Regions from separate parts of the Homo sapiens genome. Here all the other regions are linked to region 2. Evidence: fine-mapped expression QTL. A gene starts in region 2. Each other region holds a variant in brackets. All regions are shown on one strand. Distances are from middle to middle.

Region 1 (2,668 bases), 130 kb after region 2:
TGTTTTTCTCATTGGCCCTTACAACTCATAACAAATCCAGGAAGCTTCTGAGAGACTCTCTTAATGGAAATCATCTTTTAAAATGAAGAAGCTTTATCGATTAAAATAAAACAGCAAGCTCCAAACATGTGGCTCTTAGTTTTAGGTTTTATCAATACTTGTATGGCTTAGGCAAGTTTATGCATATTACTCTGATGAAGAATTCATTTTCTAGTAACAGAGATGGAAGTTAGCAGCAGATTCTTTTTCTCTCCTTACATGAGTATGCCTTTCCTCAGAAATACCAACCCACAAGGTACAAATAAGGTTAGGAGTCATTAGTGCCTCAGCTTTCCTTTTTTGAGGTCCAGTGGAGAATGGAGATGGAAGTGCTAGCTAAAGAGAAGAGATGTACCACAGTTTATTCTCCAGGACGAATGGAGCATGGATGTTCTGTTCATGGACACTTGGGTTGTTTCCAGTTTTAGTTTTTATAAAGACGCCATGAACATTTTTTGCACAAAAAATAAATAAGGAGGAGAGATGGAGGCTACAGTTTTTTTTTACTCCAGGGAGAATTTAGCTCATGCTGGTGTGGAAGAGGAGGGTTGGGTCCTCTTGGCAGCCTGTGGGTCTCTGAAGGAAATTGGGACTTCCTAGTTGGTTTGGTGGAGTCACTTTCATCAGAGATGGAGAAGCATTGACTGACAGTAGAGGTGTGGACATGATGTGCACTGTGTTGTCTCAGGGTCAGCAGCAGTGTGGCCACCAGGCATTCCCTGGTATGGGGCCAGTCAGGGACTGTCCTTCCTGACTCTTATTCAGACTAGCCAGCAACTTGGGGACTAGTCTGCCCAGGCACAAGTCATCACCAGTTCTTTAACAATACACAGTGAAAGCCAATCTTGTTCTTATAATTCATAGAATAGATGCCTAAGTTAAAATAGCTACATTATTAAGTTGTTTTCAGCCAGCTTATCAACTGAGTGTTTGTGTGTGATGCCCAGGGAAATAAATTCTAAGTATAAACTGGCATTTGTTCCGGGGGACTAAGTCACGGGGACTCTTACGGGGTGGTTCCCAGAACTCCTACCAAAACACAGCTTTGCATTAATATGGTTGTGC[G/A]TTAATAAAGATATTTCACCTAACTTTGTATAAACTGCCTGAAAAAAATACTTTTTTTTCCTTCAGTGTTTCTGTTTTTTTCCTATCAGTGTTTTTCCTATTAGTGTATCAGTACATTCTGTTCTTTTAAAAAACTTCTTTTATACTTGAGAAATTTTTGCTACTCTTTATATAATTTTGTTCCTTACTTTTCTCCTCCATGTTATGTCATATACATCTTCCATATTGGCATAGTTAAAAAAATGTATTCAGATATCATTCACATACTATAAAATTCACCCTTTAAAGGAATATAATTCAGTGTTTTTCAGTATATTGAGGTTGTATAACCATTAACACTAATTCCAGAAGTTTCAGCCCCCCAAATAAACTTCATACCTGCTGGCAGTAACTACCCATTTCCCTCTTTCTCCAACTCCTGGAAACCACCAATCTATTTTCTCTCTATATAGATTTGTCTATTCTGGACATTTCATGTTAAGTGGAATCATATGATATGTAGCCTTTTATGTCTGGCTTCTTTTAGTTAGCACAGTGTTTTCAAGGTTCACCACTCTGTAGTATAAATCAGTACTTCATTTTTTTGGCTTAGTAGTATTCCATTGTATGGCTTAGTCTTTTTTAAACAATATTTTTAGTGAATACATAGTATTGGAAAGGTGGCTATACCATCAGTAATATTATTCTATAGAAATTTAAATTTTTCTGTTACAGATAATGCTGAGGAGAATTACTTGTGTGTTTTTTTTTCTCTCAGATTTAGAATTGTTTTCATAGACAGTGCCTTCTCTCTGTACCCTCACATGGTGGGAAGGAAGAATGAGTTACCTTGTGCCTATTTTCTAAGGGCACTAATTCCATTCATGAGGGCTCTTCCCTTATGACCTAATTACCTCCTGAAGGTATCACCTCCTAATACCAGTGCCTTGAGCAGTAGGATTTTAACACACAAATTTTGGGAGGATATAAATATTCAGCTTATAATGAGAGAGAAAGAGAGAAAAAGAGAGCAATATTAATAGAGGTTGAAAGAGATAGAGAGACCTTCAAAGACAGAGGTGGCCCAGCCAGCAGACATCTTGGAGGACAGTGGATTTGATTTGGGGCCTAAAAGAGAGTAAAATATGGATAGAAAGAATGCAGCAAGGAGGATATTCTTCAGAGAAAGGATTTACAAAAATAGATGTGGCTAGAGTAAATCTAGCATCCATGGCAAGTGAGAAGTGAAAGGTAGGACTATAGGGTAAAATTGCAGAAGGGTTAGTAGGCCAAGCTAAAGAGTATAAGCTTTATTCTAAATGTAATTGGAGGCCGGGCCCAGTGGCTCACACCTGTAATCCCAATGTTTGGGAAGCAGAGACAAAGAGAATTGCTTGAGGGCAGGAGTTCAAGACTAGCCTAGAAAACATATGAGACCCTGTCTCTACAAAAAATACTTAGTCAGCCATGGTGTTGGGCACCTCTATAGTCCCAGCTACATAGAAGGCTGAAGCAGAGGAACGTTTGAGCCCTGGAGGTCGAGGCTGTAGTGTGCTATGATTGCACCATGGCACTCCAGCCTGGG
Region 2 (2,668 bases):
AGCATGTGGCCCGTGACAGAGGACATGGAAAATGTCAGTGGCCCCAGTGCATCTGTGCCAGCCGCTTTGGCCTCTTGTAGGGCTGTGCGGTGACTGGGAGCTAAGCGCTCCCCTCTTAGTTGGTCCTGGCTGGTGCTGAAAGCGCTTGAGCACACCGCTCCTAGGGCTGATGACTTCTGAGGAACCTTATTGGAAAAGCATTTTGCTCTAAGATTCAGTAAACGCTGTCCCGTGCCAAGGAAGTGGCGTCAACCTGAGGCTCTGGGATCAGACCCACCGGACTCACGCCGGCTCTGCCACTTGTTGCCCGCAGTCTCGGCCCGTTCCCTCTGCGTTGGCAACGGGCACTGACTGTCCGATACCTCAGCGATCGTAGGGGAGTAGAGACGTTCCTAATGCCGGGCGCACCGCCGGCGGGCCGGCGGTTCCGTTGGCTTCCCTGACACACTTCCTACAGTCATTTCTTTCAGCTGAGATCTTTCCCTTTAATACCTCGTTAATTAACGTGTAATCTTTTGGTTAAAATGTCACAGCTAAGACTAAACCCGAAGAAAAGAATGAAACCACGGGAAGTTCTTCAGACAGTCGCCGCAAGGTTATGGGCCGAAGTGGTGCAGGGGCGGCGCCCGGGGAAGCGACTGGCAGAGCTGTGCGCACTGGGGGTGCTGCAGGCGCTGGGGAGAGTGTGGAGAGGCTGCGTGGAGCTGCGCGCTCGGGGTGGGGGCTGCACTCCCAATGAAGCGCGTGAAGGGCAAGCGGTGATGGGTTCTGCGCCAGTGGGGCTGGGAGCCCGTCCGGGGCTGTACATGGGGCTGCGCGCAAGGTGAGGACTGCGCATGTGGGCTTGGGGCCTGCGCGCACCGGAGGCTGCAGGCGCTGGGGAGGGTGTGGGGGGCTGTGCGTGGGGCTGCCCTCACCGGAAGCTGCACGCTCTGGGAAGCGCAGAGGCGGGGGTGCTGCTCGCGCTGGGGAGCACGTGAGGGGACACTCAGGGACTGCCCGCGCGAATGGCTTCCAACGCATGCGCCCCACCCCACATTTCACAGTCGCCATGACGACCGGGAGGTCCGCAACGGCTGCGGGGACAAGTCCGTTGAGGCTGCCAGGCGAGTCAGGTCTCTCTGGACCTCGCCTGACTCGGCTGGGCTGTGCCTGAAATTGACCCAGCTCCACCATACTCCTTGATTATGAGAAAACAAGGAGTAAGCTCAAAGCGGCTGCAATCTTCCGGCCGCAGCCAGTCTAAGGGGCGGCGCGGGGCCTCCCTCGCCCGGGAGCCGGAGGTAGAGGAGGAGATGGAAAAGTCGGCCCTAGGCGGCGGGAAACTGCCAAGGGGCTCCTGGAGGTCCTCCCCGGGGAGGATCCAAAGTCTGAAAGAGCGAAAAGGCTTGGAGCTAGAGGTGGTGGCCAAGACCTTTCTTCTCGGCCCCTTCCAGTTCGTCCGTAATTCCCTGGCGCAGCTCCGGGAAAAGGTGCAGGAACTGCAGGCGCGGCGGTTCTCCAGCAGAACCACTCTCGGCATCGGTGAGGAGAGGGCAGGAGAGCCCTAGGAGGGAGCCGCATGGCGCTTTTCTTGAGTCTTGAAGGAGATCAGTTTAACAAGCAAGGGTTTGTGGGTGCCTAGTAGGAAATAATAGCAAGGTCCGAGTAGAAAGAAGTTGGCCAAAGATCTTGTCATTGAACCAGGGGAGAGAGAGAGATAGGGAGTATATTGGTTTGAAGGGCTGTCAGATCGCAGAGAGTGTTTTAAGGTCTAGGAGTTTTAAAGGCTGAGGGGAAGGATCAAGAGAAGATGATGAGATTAAGATTCCAAGAGAGGAAATAATTAGTGGAGCAAGTCTTGCAATATTTGGGAGGGGTAGAATTAAAGGTACAAATTTGAGAAGCTAACTGTGGAAAAGAGGAGAGAGAATTCCTTTTCTGAGATGGCAGGGAGTAGAAAAGTGAGGATTACTATATGGAGAAATGTTAAAGTGGAAATAAAAGAAGTTGGGAGTGTTGGTGTCTAATGGTCTTTGTTTCAGTGAAGTATGAGGCTGGGTCACCTTCAGAGGTGAGATTGATAGGATGCCGTGGTCCAGGGGACATTCTTCTGTCACAGCTTGGAAAGGGCATGTGATAAGCCCTTCAAGCATTTAGAATACTGGCATCGTTACACCATATCATTTTTTTTCAGATGTGGTATGTGGGTTAAGGGAGGGAGTGAGAGACACAGAAAGATTTTGAGCATCTTTGGAAAGCTGGATGAATTTGGTAGTATATTTGACCTTTTCCTTATATATCATCTGAAGAGTTTTTGCCAGTGTATATAATTGTTGGGAGAATTAGAAATAGGATACAAATATAGTTGAACAGGATAGTCTCTGTATATTTTAAAATTAATGAAGCCTAATAAACAGTTAATGAGCATCTTTACAACCATTTAAAGTTTTCAACCTTTTAAAAATTATAGCAACCGTGCTTGCATACAGTCCAAAAATGCACCATGGGCCATACTTTGCCTATCCTGGTATAAAACAAGTAAATCTTCCGAGAAGTATTTAAGATAAGCCCAGGACAGTTAGTAATATAGGAAAAGATCTGGATAAGCATGGTTGAGAATTTCAACACTGCAATTTTTTAATTTTTAAAAATTTAATTTCTTCAATAATTATTGAATTAATTTGCA
Region 3 (2,668 bases), 51 kb before region 2:
TGCTCTACCAAGTTTGTGTAGTAATTTTCCTATAGCATACAATAATGTATCCTGCAGCATATAATAGCCTATAACATATAATAAATATATAGGAAATAAAGTAAATATATACTAGGTATAGTATTAGAATTTTTTCACATACAAAGAACAAAGAGGGAGGAGAAAAGAGAGGAAGATTTAAAAATTCACATTTAGGACCACTTTCATATATCTTAAGCTTTGGATATGACTGCTATTTTTATGTCTATTGAAATCCAAGTCAGAGTTTCCAAAACAATTTGTGAAAAACTTCCTCATTTATTGTGCCTTGTAGTTTCATTTATAAGTAATGAAAGTGGGACCTTTTATTTGCTATTTCTTTCTCTGGTTTTTGCAAGGGAATGATTGCATTTCTTTACATTATTGGATAAAAGCTAAATACATTACACTTTCAACAAACTATTTTATAATTTAAGATTGAAAGGTCATGCATTGTTTTTGAGCAGGCAGACCATTGCTGTAGAGTTGAAGTGTAGGTCAAGTTTCATTTTTAAATGCCTTTGGTCAGATATTTTCCTGCTAATTGGAGAAATGGTCTCTGAGGGCCAATTTTACCTTGTGGCTGGGAACCCTAGCTGGATTCAGAGTCCAGTGATATTATACAGAACAACCACTGCAAAAGGTCCCCTTCTCTTTTGCACAGCAGGTAGTGTCAAAATCTGCCCTCCACACATTTACTTAAAGATAATAGAGATGCCAAAAGAGTGAACATTTTGGTTAGGAATTGCATTATGTTCTATATTATTTAAATACATGAAAAAGCAGGGTTGTGTTTTGGACTGAATTAGTAACTTGGATATATGTAGACCCACACTAAACAGTAGCATTTCTTAAGCACATACTACTAACCTTGCTTAGTGTTTTCTCTTGATGAAGTGAGAAACATTGCTGCTTTTAAGAATTTGTGAGTTATAAAGAAGCCATATCTCTGGTTTCTGTACATACAATGTTTGGTAGCTGATTTATTTTTGAGACTTCTTTTAGGATTACTTTTGATAAACGTGATTTGTTCAACAACATTACAAGATGCAGGCATCCTCTATTCGGACATGAATGAAATGGTGTCCACCTGAAATCACTGTCTGTAACTCAGCTTCTTTTTCTCATCAGTTCTCAGTGTTTTTTTTTTTTTCAGTTATCCCAAATTTCATAAAGAGATGTAAAACTACACCTTAAAAATGAATTTCTGTATAGCTACTGGTCTTTATTTAAATATTGTGGCATAAACTCTATGTCTGACCTTTTAAAACGTA[T/C]GATTACCTAGAATGTTAAAATTTTGCTATTTAAAAATTATTTTATCTTAAAATTTAAAAAGTGAAATGCTTTTCCTGTAAATTCATGGTTTCACTTAGTTCATAATTGGTGAAAAGGTGAGATCATATTTCTGACTGTGCTTGTTCTTGAGGTAAAGCTCAACAAATACTTGTGGGGTTCTTAATTGTGGACACTCTAGTAGATTCAGAGTCTAGTGACAGTGGGCTACAAGGAACATGGTGGGCTCACAAAGAAGTTTAATCCACAATCTCTGTGCTGCTAATTATTAATACCCCATAAAAGCTGTTCAGGAATGTGTAGCATCAACCCAGAGCTCCCATACAATTTTAGTGATAATAGATCCATTCAGTTTTTTTTTGCTGTCACGTGCAAAAGCAATTATTTTCCCTAGAATTAGATTAAATAGAAATAGAGAAAGTAATTGTTTTGAATTCTTTTTCTAATTAGTGCACTAAAATTAAATCATTGCTGTAGCTAATTGGTAAATCTGGGTGTATAAGAGCACCTGTACTATTCTTGCAACTTTCCTGAAGTTTGAAATTATATCAAAATGTAAAGAAATTTCCACTGATACTCCTAGGAATTATGAAAGTTGGATTAAAATGATATTAGCAGTAGATAATTCTCATAATGAGAGAAAATTCGAAGACATCTGAAAACTCATGTTGAATTTAAGTTACTCCTTTGCTCAAAGTATGGCAGTATTATCAGATATGGTGACACATCAATTGAGCAACACGTGTTTTGAGAGTATGTATTTTCTGTGGTATTAGAGCACTGGAGAATTTAAGATAACTTCTCAATCATATTCTGAGCCAATAGTCTTTATCTTTTGAAAGAAGAACAAGAAATGTGATTTTCAAAATTCTTTTCAGAGATAAAATATGTCAAAAGTCCATCTTTAATCATTAGAACAGATAGGTAATACCTTCTACCCTTTTCATTTGTAAAGACTCAGAAAAAGCTTGATATGATTCATATCTTAGAGAGATGGCTGTAAAAAGTTCTTTCAAAATGAATTTTTTATCAGATATATTATCTGTTGTTGTCTGTAGAAAATTTTATCCATTGGCAAGCCTGTTTACTTTTCAATTTTATAAATGTGCTATTTAAAGGCAGCCTTACCTTTATTGCTCCACCTCACAGTTTCAGTTTGAAATTTTCATGTGGGTTTGATTTACCCTTAATGTCTCTGTTGGAGGTGGTGTCACCTTCTTTAGCATCATTTAGAGCCAGTTCCAGCTCTGATTAGCTGTGCATGTCATCCGACATCTAGCGCAGTGCATGGGCATGGTGATTTATCCTCATTATTTGCTGATGAATTATTGTGAAAGCATATTAATGAACTATAAAG

The links. PIP is the estimated chance that this variant, and not a neighbour inherited with it, causes the effect. A credible set is the group of variants that fine-mapping cannot tell apart.
Region 1: its variant is the best candidate, but not a certain one, in a credible set for the expression of DPY19L2 in whole blood (TOPMed, PIP 0.86).
Region 3: its variant is the best candidate, but not a certain one, in a credible set for the expression of DPY19L2 in whole blood (TOPMed, PIP 0.84).

Annotation. Positions count from the first base shown.
Region 1 is chr12:63,536,132-63,538,799 of GRCh38, reverse strand. No RefSeq gene overlaps it. Among named protein-coding and RNA genes, the nearest start is that of DPY19L2, 130 kb to the left of the region's middle. The variant G/A (reference allele first, on the strand shown) is at 1,105.
Region 2 is chr12:63,666,913-63,669,580 of GRCh38, reverse strand. It overlaps DPY19L2 (dpy-19 like 2), which reads left to right and starts at 1,088. Exons shown (of 22, transcript NM_173812.5): 1 at 1,088-1,524. The coding sequence starts at 1,188. RefSeq lists enhancers at 1-180, 181-682, 1,132-1,191.
Region 3 is chr12:63,717,698-63,720,365 of GRCh38, reverse strand. It overlaps the pseudogene LOC100418730. Among named protein-coding and RNA genes, the nearest start is that of DPY19L2, 51 kb to the right of the region's middle. The variant T/C (reference allele first, on the strand shown) is at 1,293.